Linked DNA regions of Homo sapiens: region 1 is linked to region 2. Evidence: fine-mapped expression QTL. A gene starts in region 2. The other region holds a variant in brackets. All regions are shown on one strand. Distances are from middle to middle.

Evidence for each region. PIP is the estimated chance that this variant, and not a neighbour inherited with it, causes the effect.
Region 1: its variant is the best candidate, but not a certain one, in a credible set for the expression of PI4K2B in prefrontal cortex (BrainSeq, PIP 0.88).

The regions. Positions count from the first base shown.
Region 1 is chr4:25,260,523-25,265,904 of GRCh38, forward strand. It overlaps PI4K2B (phosphatidylinositol 4-kinase type 2 beta), which reads left to right. Exons shown (of 10, transcript NM_018323.4): 6 at 2-69; 7 at 3,228-3,327. Among named protein-coding and RNA genes, the nearest start is that of PI4K2B, 29 kb to the left of the region's middle. The variant T/C (reference allele first, on the strand shown) is at 2,229.
Region 2 is chr4:25,231,944-25,237,325 of GRCh38, forward strand. It overlaps PI4K2B (phosphatidylinositol 4-kinase type 2 beta), which reads left to right and starts at 2,090. Exons shown (of 10, transcript NM_018323.4): 1 at 2,090-2,488. The coding sequence starts at 2,221. It overlaps LOC105374535 (a long non-coding RNA gene), which reads right to left and starts at 1,922. Exons shown (of 4, transcript XR_925490.3): 1 at 1,846-1,922. RefSeq lists silencers at 1,880-2,189, 2,290-2,529, 2,570-2,629 and enhancers at 1,916-2,417, 2,418-2,917, 2,850-2,979.

The DNA.
Region 1 (5,382 bases), 29 kb after region 2:
GACAGGGGCAATGATAATTGGTTAGTCAGATACGAAAAGCAGAAATGTGAAAAGGAAATTGACCATAAGGTAAGGAAATTTACAATTTTATATATATATATATATATATATATATATATACACACACACACACACACACACATACACACACACACGTGTATATAATTGTGTATAACTTGTGAATATTATATATATATATATTCAATTTCTGTAAAAGATTCCTTTAAGTTATTCTTCACCATTTCCTCCTTCTTTCACTTAATCCTTGGTTTTTAAATCTACTGTCTCTGTTTTTCTCACACTTTTTATTTTTGTCACTTGTTTACGTTGCATTTCTTGATTCTTGATTTTTTTTTTTTTTTTTTTTTAGGGGTGGGATTTTGCCGTGTTGGCCAGGCTGGTCTCGAACTTCTGGCCTCAAGCAATCCATCCGCCTTGGCCTCCCAAAGTGCTGGGATTACAGTCATGTGCCACCACACCCAGCCAGTTCTGTTTTTTCTTTTATTAATTGTTGGGCAGCTTTATTTTTTATTTCATATTAGAATAGAAGAATAATACCTGCCTAGTACTTTTTTAGAGTTTGAGAAATATATGGAATCCCCATATTTTGCTTTTATGTAATAAAGGCTTCTGGGATTTTTGTTCACCATGTTTGTATTTTACTAATTCACTTTCTTCTGAGTCCTTTCATTCAGTATTAGATAATACAATATTACCTAATAAATGGAACATGTGTGCTTAACCTGTGAATCTTGTCCACTGAACTTAAAAAAAGTATTAAATACTTTTGCTATTTATAAGAAGCTGGTTTTAACATATATAATAGACTGCATAGAGCCTCAACACTGATATGAGAGTTATAGATTTTAGAGTAATTGCTATCGACTTTGAGTACCAAGTTGAAGTTTTAGATATTTACATAAGATTTTTTTTATAAAATACTTTTACAAGTTTAAAACAGTTTGTACATTTGGGAAAGTTTTAAGTGATTAAAAATATTTCTTCAATATTTATAATTTATGTTCTCAAGTAATGACTTAAAGCTGTTGCATCATTTTTAAAAGTTTGTGCTTTTAAATGTTTATCAAGGATATTTAAAAATACATATTCGTAGCACTTAGCAATAAAAAGGAACAAACGATACAATAGCGTGGATGAAACTTAAAATTATGCTGAGTGAAAGAAGCTACACATAAAGGGAACATATTGTATATTTATATTTAAAAATTAGAAAATGCAAACTAGTTTCTAGTGACAGAAAACAGACCAGTAGCTGGACTGCAGAGGGACACAAGGAAACTTTGGCGTGGAAGTTTCACATATGTCAAGGCTCATCACATTGTACTTGTTAATATAGGAAGTTAATTGTGTATAAATTATACCTTAATAAAGTTGTAAATAGGAAAGAATAGTAGAAATAATAATAAATGGCAGTTGTAGCAGAAATGGGCTTAAAATACAAACATAAATGCTCATATGTATAAGCTCCTGGGCTGGGCACAGTGGCTCATGCCTGTAATCACAGCACTTTGGGACGCCAAGGTGGGAGGATTGATTGAGTCCAGGAGTCTGAGACCCTGTGTCTACAAAGAATTAAAAAAAAATCTTTTTAAAGCGCCACTTAAGGATAAAAGACTTAAAGATAGTAGAAAAAGTAAAATGAAATAAATTAGCCGGACATGGTGGCAGGCACCTGTGGTCCCAGCTATTCGGGAGGCTGAGGTGGGAGGATTGCTTGGGCACAGGAAGTCAATGCTGCAGTGAGTTGTGGTTGTGCCTCTGCACTCTAGCTTGGGTGACAGAGCAAGACCCTGTCTCAAAAAAATAAAAAAATTAAAGATAATTAAATAACATAAGCTCCCCAAATTATTTTATTTGTATATCTTGAGCTGTTAGATTTTGCTGAAAATTCTTTTGCTCTAAGTATTTTGTGCACTTTCAATGAGGTGTAAGACATTTGATATAAACTAAAAGAAATAAAGTTGGCGTACCTCACATCAGCCTTCACTGTAGTGCTTTTAAATTAAAAATTTTCTGTTTTACTTTTTGTTATTGTATCTAGGCCACTTAGTAATGGCCATCTATCTTTAATCAGAATACCCTTTTTTTTTCTTTAAAAAACACACACTTTTAACTTTATTCTGTTTTAATTTCTAAGTAAAGCAATTCCAAAAATACGAAGTTAACATCAGAGCCGTGTGAACCACCGTGGTAAAATAAAACAGATA[T/C]TCACAATAATTACCTCTAAAGATAGTTGAGCTTGATAAATTACCTTCCGCAGAAATACTCTTTAACATGAAAACCCTCTTTCTCCTGAGATCTTTATTTCTGTTATGGAAGAATACAGAAGTTAGGAACGGCCTACTGTATTAGTACATTCTCACACTGCTATGACGAAATACCCAAGGCTGGGTCATTTATAAAGAAAAGAGACTCACAATTCTGCATGGCTGGGGAGGCCTCAGGAAACTTACAATCATGGCAGAAGGCACCTCTTCACAGGGTGGCAGGAGAATGAGTGTAGGAGAAATGCCAGACGCTTGCAAAACCATCAAATCTCATGAGAACTCACTCACTGTCACGAGAACAGCATGGCAGAAACTGCCCCCATGATCCGATTACCTCCACCTGGTCCCACCCTTGACACATAAGGATTACAGGGGATTACAATTCAAGATGAGATTTTGGGTGGGGACACAGCCAAAAAATAACACCTACATTCAAGAATATCTTGAGGTTCCTTCTACTAGATCTTATATTTAATTATGGTCTTTGAAGGAGTTTCATTTAGAAACATTTTGTGTTTGATTTATTTCTTTGGGACCCTAAGAAAGACTAGGTCTTAATAAGGTGATTATTAAGGTGTTTAAAAAAATTAGTAATATTTTACATCATACATTTAAGCAATGAATCTAGCAGTAAATTATCTAGAACATCACTTTTTAAAGTCACAATATTTTCAAGCCTTTTAAAGAGAAAAAACTTGAAACCATTACTGAGTAATGGTATAATATGAAATTTTAAAAAATAGTGGTTAGGAAATACACTGTTTTTTCAGACAGTCTCTTCCATTCCTGTGTGAATTTGTACTTTTTCTGGTAACATTATTTTTATAGGCTCATCCGAGAGAATATGTTCTTAAACCTCAATAATTATTATAAATAATTTATCCTTTGGGAATATTTATATAGGTTCTTTTATCAACATATCATTTTTCTACTCTATAGGAATCAAAATGGATTGATGATGAAGAATTCCTTATTAAAATAGCTGCAATTGATAATGGTCTAGCATTTCCTTTTAAACATCCTGATGAATGGAGAGCATGTGAGTATTTAGAACCTTCTGTAGAGTCTATAATTACCTTTTTTCCAGAATGAGAAGGGAAAAAAATTTACAGATACCATAGCGGAGGAAAAAGTAGATGAAATATGATTATTCATTAAGGCTCAGTTTTAGGCATTAGGGATGCAAATGTATACTACAGGGTCTTGCTATGAATTTTTTGCTTATTCTGGGATGACTGGTTTTGATTTTTAGGTTTTGTGTTATCCTTGGAAAATGAGTTTAGTAGTGTTCCAGTTTTTAAAAAATATATAACATTGAAATTATTTTAATATTTGGTAGAACTATATTTTACGTTTTTCGTTGTATTCACTTCTAAAACAATTTAGGCCTGCCCTCCACCTGACCTCATTTTTAGGGAGTAGTGCTTTAATTGCTTTCCCAGTCTCTTTTGTGGTAAATGATTACGTTTTCTACATCTTCTTGAACCAGTTTTAGGCACTTTTATTTTGCTTAAAATTTTCCATGATTTCTTGAGTTTTAAATTTATGAGTATAGCATTTTATTAGAATTCTCTTATAATTAAAAAAATTCCCTCTGTGCGTATTGAGTATTTAGGGAGTTAAATGAAATGATTTCTGTAATTTGCCTTAAAATATTGGTGGTGTGGACCAGGAGGGATAAATAAAGCCAGTTTTGCAAAAAAAAATTGGTAATGATTGAGTTAACATGGGAGTTTATTATAGTTGTTTTCTGATATTTGTATGTGTTTAAAATATATGGGCCAGGCATGGTGGCTCACACCTGTAATCCCAGCACTTTGGGGGCTGAGGCTAGCAGATCACTTGAGCTCAGGAGTCCAAGACCAGCCTGGGCAACATGGCGAAACCCCATCTCTACAAAAAATACAAAAATGAGCCAGGTGTGGTGGCCGATGCCTGTAGTCCTAGCTACTTGGGAGACTGAGGTGAGAGGATTACTTGAGCTTGGGAGGTGGAGGTTGCAGTGAGCCAAGATGGCACCACTGTACTCCAGCCTGGGTGACAAGAGTGTAAGGCCCTGTCTCAAAAATAAAATAAAAAATATATAGTATGTTTAAAAAATCTGGCTGGGTGCAGTGGCTCACGCCTGTAATCCCAGCACTTTGGGAGGCTGAGGTGGGTGGATTACCTGAGGTCAGGAGTTTGAGATCAGCCTGGGCAACATGGTGAAACTCCATCTCTACTAAAAATACAAAATTAGCCGGGTGTGGTGACACATGCCTGTAATCCCAGCTACTCGGGAGGCCGAGGCAGGAGAATCGCTTGAACCTGGGAGGCAGAGGATGCTGTGAGCCGAGATCGCGCCATTGCACTCCAGCCTGGGCAACAAGAGTAAATCTCTGTCTCACCAAAAAAAAAAAAAAAAAAAAAAATTTGTATCCATGATATGTCTCTTTTAAATTCCTTCAATTTATTAGTGAGCCTTTTACTCATTAGGCTTGCCAAAGATTTGTCTATTGTTAAGCATCGGTCCTTCTATTTATTTAATTATTTATGCTCTTTTTCCCCAGATAATTGCCTTTTTATTTTATAGATCAGGCTTTTAGTTTGTTTGCTTTTTCTTTTATAGATTTATGTTTTCCATCATTATTCTTTTCTCCTATTATGTTCATGCTATATCGCTTTCCTATAAATGCATATTAGGCCTCATACTTTCCTCTGGGTATCATTTTGGCTAAATCACGGGTTGCACAGGTGGTACTCTATGGCTCTGCTTTACATACTCATATTTTCTGACTTTCTTTTTGACAGGAATAATTTAGAAGTATTTTGTTTGATCTTAAAATTTCTACGTCAGCTTATTTTAATTGTCCATTATTACTATTTCTAAGAAACTGTTCATTGTTATTTTCCAGCATTATTGCATTGTGATCTGTGAATATGGCCTGTGTAAATTCTGTTTTGCAATTTGTTAGTAATTTCTGTATGATCCTATATATGGCCTATTTAGAGGATAGTATTTGAAAAGAATGAGGACAAAATTCTGTCTGCTAACCTGAAGGTTGTTAGTCATATCATATCCTTTACTTATTTTCTGACTATTTAATCTGTTAAT
Region 2 (5,382 bases):
AAAAAAAATAAGTATAACAGAAAGTCAATGGTGGAATGAAAATGAAATAATCAGAATTATTGAATTAATCCAAACGAAGGCAGGAAAGGAGGAACAGAGGAACCGAAAAGGTTAAAGCAAATAAAACCCAAATTGCAAAATAATAGATCTAAATCCAACCACATCATTATTACATTAAATGTAAATGGACCCCAAACTCCAATTAAAAGGCATTTACAGGCCAGGTGCAGTACCTCACACCTGTAATCCCAGCACTTTGGGAGGCCGAGGCGGGTGGATCATCTGAGGTCAGGAGTTCGAGACCAGCCTGGCCAATGTGGTGAAACCCTATCTCTACTAAAAAATACAAAAATTAGCCGTGCATGGTGGCAGGCACCTGTAATTACAGCTATTCTTTCTTTAAAGCGGAGAAGGCATCAGGGAAGAGGGTTGTAGGTGGTGAAGCAAATGGTTACATTTTTGCTAGACTTTAGGTAGTGCCCAGTAACTCTATGCTATGCATAAGATAAGGTGAATATTCAAAGAAAATGGAGTAAAGGAAGTTAATTATACAGATATCTCAGGTGAAGGAATGATTGATCTTATCCTTGTTCTGCATCTGGGAAGATAAGCTTGTAACTGAATTTATCCATGTGAAATTTAACAGACTTTAGTTGTACCAGTTTGATTTAGGTTGCAGACTTAAAGTTATACAATTGACACGTCCTTGTTTTATGGAAGGATATACATCTTGAAAGGTTTAAGGGCCAGTAAAGAATTTACTATGATTAATTTGTTGAGGACAGTCATCCTGAGACTGAGATGCATAAGGCTTTTTTTTGCATTTTGAGGAGGGTCTGGCTAACATATAAAGTTTTAATACAACTATGGGAAGTAACAGCTATCCATTTGGGAAAAGCATTGTAGTGTTGAGTGACTTCAGTCTCCAGGCTTAACTCTCCCTTTGACATAACAAGTTGGGGGTGGGGGGTGGTTCTGAGATTTTTATTTTCCTTTACAGGGTCAAAGAGGAAATCATAAAGGAAATTAAAAACTATTTTCAGCTGAAGGAAAACAAAAGCACAGTAGCAGGCCAGGCAAGGTGGCTTATGCTTGTAATCCCAGAATTTTGGGATGCTGAAGCAGGACGACTGCTTGAGACCAGGAGCTCAAGACCAATCTGGGCAACAGTGAGATCCCATCTCTACAAAAAATTTAAATTTAAAAATTAACAGGATGTGGTCGTGCACACCTGCAGTTCCAGCTACTGTGTCTTCTACAGTTTAAAGCTGAGAAGATCCCTTGAGCTTAGGAGGTTGAGACTGCAGTGAGCTATGATTGTGTCACTGCACTCCAGCCTGGATAACAAAGTGAGACCCTGTCTCAAAAATAACAACCACCAAGAAAAAAAAAAAGGAGAATTCAGCTAAAGCAGTGCTTAGAGGGCAATTTATAGCCTTAAAATACTAGCATTGGAAAAGCAGAAAGATCCAGAATCAATCATCTTCTACTCTAAGCAACTAGAAAAAGAAGAGGAAATCAAAACTCAAGTGAGCAATAAAGAGCAAAATAAGGCAATGGACCAGAAAACAGAAAATCAATGGAACCAAAACATGACATTTTGAAAAGATTTAAAAATTGATAAACTTCTAGCTAGATTAGTCAGAAAAAGAAAACATACAAACTGCCACTATCAAGAATATCTGAACAAAGACAAGGTCCCTGCCCTCCTGGACGTCTACTGGAGGAAAGAAATGTCATACAATTAAATCTATAGTTACAGATTATGGTAAACTCTGAGAGAGAATTCTGTCAGGGAGAAGCCGCTTTTGGTTGCAGGAGGGCACCTCTTTGAAAATTACTCACCTTCCCGCCCTCCACTGGGAGTAAAGCGAGCTGTGCCCAGCTTCTCCCCGCGCTCACGGAAGCAGGTGGCGGCCCCACCCCACCTGACCCCTCAAAAGCCCCGCCCCCTGTTCACTCCCACGTGCCCCGCTGCCGCCGCCGCCGCCGCCACGACCCTTCTGCGCAGGCGCGGGGGTGGTGCCTGGCGGAGGCGCGAGGTGGGGCGCGGCCGGCGGCGAGGCGGGACAACCGCTGGGCGGGCGCCAAGCGTGCCCGTGCGCTGGTGAGGTGGCGTCCGTTCTACCCGGTCGCTCCCGTTCCGCGCCATGCAGAGCCCAGTCTCTGGCACCTGGCTGCTCTGATCTGGTCTCAGCGCGGAGGGAGCAGAGGGAGTCCATGGAGGATCCCTCCGAGCCCGACCGGTTGGCGTCCGCGGACGGCGGGAGCCCGGAGGAGGAGGAGGATGGGGAGCGGGAGCCGCTGCTACCGCGGATCGCCTGGGCCCACCCGCGGAGAGGCGCCCCAGGCAGCGCCGTGAGGCTGCTGGACGCTGCCGGGGAGGAGGGCGAGGCCGGCGACGAGGAGCTGCCCCTCCCGCCCGGGGACGTGGGGGTCTCCCGGAGTTCGTCCGCCGAGCTGGACCGGAGCCGCCCCGCGGTTTCAGGTGCGACCCGGCCCTGCCCCACTCCCCGCGCCCCTCCGGGCGGCTGCCCCTGTCGCCCGGCTCGGTCCTGTCTCCCGCGCGCGCTGGCCGAGGTGGACGGGCTTTCCCCGCTCGCTGGGCAGCAGCTCCCGAGCTCGGACCGGCGCCAGCCGCAGCCGCACCGCGGGCACCTAGCTTGCTCGCTCTTTCTCCGGGAGCTCCCTCTCCTAAGGCCAGTGGTTGTCATTAAACCGATTCTTTAGACCTCCCCGCAAAGTGAGTCAAAACTTCTAGAAACCGACACTGGGGAGAGGTTAACGCTGTAAAATGACGTAAGTCCTTGCTCAAGTTTGGACTTGACTTTTGAATTAAGAACCTTGAACTCTCAGGAAAGTTCCCGGAGTGGTGAATTTGCAAAGTGGATGACAGGAGAGAGATGGACAGCCAGAATATCCAGTTGCCACTGGGGCACGTTTCAAAACCTTTTTCTATTAAATGTTGTTATTATGAAGTTAGCCACAGGGGGCAAAAGCAGTTGAAAGTCTGTTCCTGCCCTCTTACAGTTTAGTTTCTCTTTCTTGATTTACTTCTAATACATAAGAAAACCAAAACGAAAAACCTCTTTTCGCTATTAAGCGGACTGATAACCTCAGGCGAAACAGGGCAGTTGAAATGATGTTGAAGGTTAAATTTAGGTATGCTGTGCAGGCCTGGATATTTATTAATAAAGTGAGTTTTTCTGGCGTGTTGAATGGAGTTAGACAAATGTGATGGAAATAGCAAGAGACTTGTAAGACTCTCAGCTAGAGGTGAGACAGACTTGTTTGTAAAAAGGCGATGGTACACCTCCCTGCTGGTTGTGAGGATGGATTAAATGAGATGTTGTGCACCCGGTTGGTTTATCGCTTCACACATGACAACTTAAAAACCACAGAAAATGGAAGTTTCTTTAACACTGCTTAGTTTTTTTTGGAATTGTTAGATTTTAAATGTACTGTTAGTGGTACACTAATGTGTCCTTTACAGTTTAAAGAATTTTGGATAGAATCGGTCACTCAAGTTCTAGCTAGAGGCTACATTCAGGCATATTCTAGAGTAAATAAATCAGAGAATCCCAAGGGGAGCAGTTTGTCTGATTGTTTAAGCTTTAACCAACGTCTGCTCCCGTTATAATGTTACCTGATGGATGCATTGACGTTTAACCAAACAACGTGAAGCTGAAACCAGATCACAAACGGGTCTGCATTTGCCTAGCTACATTGGCAATTTGGGTATATGTTACTTAGAATTTAGTCTGTAAAATAGCTAGCTTGCCTTTTTCTGTCCCTTACCTTGTGTAAGCTACCTTGTGTACCTGGGTTTTTAAAAGAGCCTAAAGCCTTCAAAATGCACTTGTTCTGTGAAAGTGAGGTGTTTTATAAACAAACAGTATTAAGGCTAGAAAAAAATCAAAGCGAGAGGTCAACGAGATGGCAGGCCTGTAATCCCATCCCAGCATTTTGGGAGGTCTAGGCAGGAGAATAGCTTGAGGCTGGAAGTTCGAGACCCACCTGGGCAACATAGCGAGATCCCCATCTCTATAAAAAATAAACAACAACAACAACAAAAATTCAAAGTGAGGATAGAGTATAGTGTTAGAATACAAATGGATTCTTAGAATTCCTACCTTTTTTAAAGGTAATATCTTACCTGTATCACAGTTTACAATTTGCTAAGATCTTTTTTAAAAAAATATTTTATTCTCCACTGCACTCCAGCCTGGTTCTGTCTTGAGACAGAGCAAGACTCTGTCTCAAAAATAAATAAATAAATAAATAAATAAATAAATAAATAAATAAATAAATAAATTTTATTCTCTGTTGGGTGCCATGGCTCATGCCTGTAATCCCAGCATTTTGGAAGGCCTAGGTGGGTGGATCATTTGAGGTCAGGAGTTTTCAGACCAGCCTGGCCAACATGGTGAAACCCTGCCTCTACTAAAAATAGAAAAATTAGCCAGGCATGGTGGCGGGCGCCTGCAATTCCAGCTACTTGGGAGGCTGAGGCAGGAGAATCGCTTCTGAACCCGAGAGGTGTAGGTTGCAGTGAGCAGAGATGGCTCCACTGCACTCCAGCCTGGGTGACAGAGTGAGACTTTGTCTCAAAAAAAAAATTAATTATTTTCACAACAGCACAGCAAGTTAGTTGTTATTCGCCATTATTCTCATTATGAGGATTCAGAATTAATAAACTGGTAATGACTGGTAGCTCAGGTCTTCAGAGGTAAATGGTTTGCCCGAAGTCAAATATCCAGGAAGTAATAAATCAGGAGGAAGCCTGGTTCTTTCTTCATCTTCTGCCCCTTTTCCGTTTTGCCATGGGTCCACAAGTGTTATAAAATAATTGTGTCTGTGGTTATTTTGGAGGTTTTTACCTTTAATAGGACTTTAAAATAGTTTCTGTGAAAACTGTTTAAAAAATTTTTAAAGACTAAAATGTTCATGATTGAGTAATTTAATACTTTTTAAGTTTAGTTATTTTTTAAATGACTCCATTAACTTCATTTGTCCTTTACCATCCGATTTCCATGAAACTACCTCACTAGTTCCAAGAAATTCTTGCCTTTAGATTAATATGAACATCATTTATGATGCTTAACTCTTACTTATATAAGCAAGAGGTTTATGTACTTTAGCCAGTGGAAGAATGTCATATGTCTGTTATCTTCAACAAGGCATTTAACAAAGCCTACAAACAGCATAAACCATAGTGTTGTTGGATCAGTGTCAAAGTGGAAGGATTAGTGCATTCCTTGTTCTAGTTATTTTAATCAGTGAATTCGGTAGTAATGACAGCTAATGCCTACATAGCAGTTAATATGCGCTAGGCATAGTTCTGTATGCTTCATATATATTAATTCATAACCAACCCTGTGA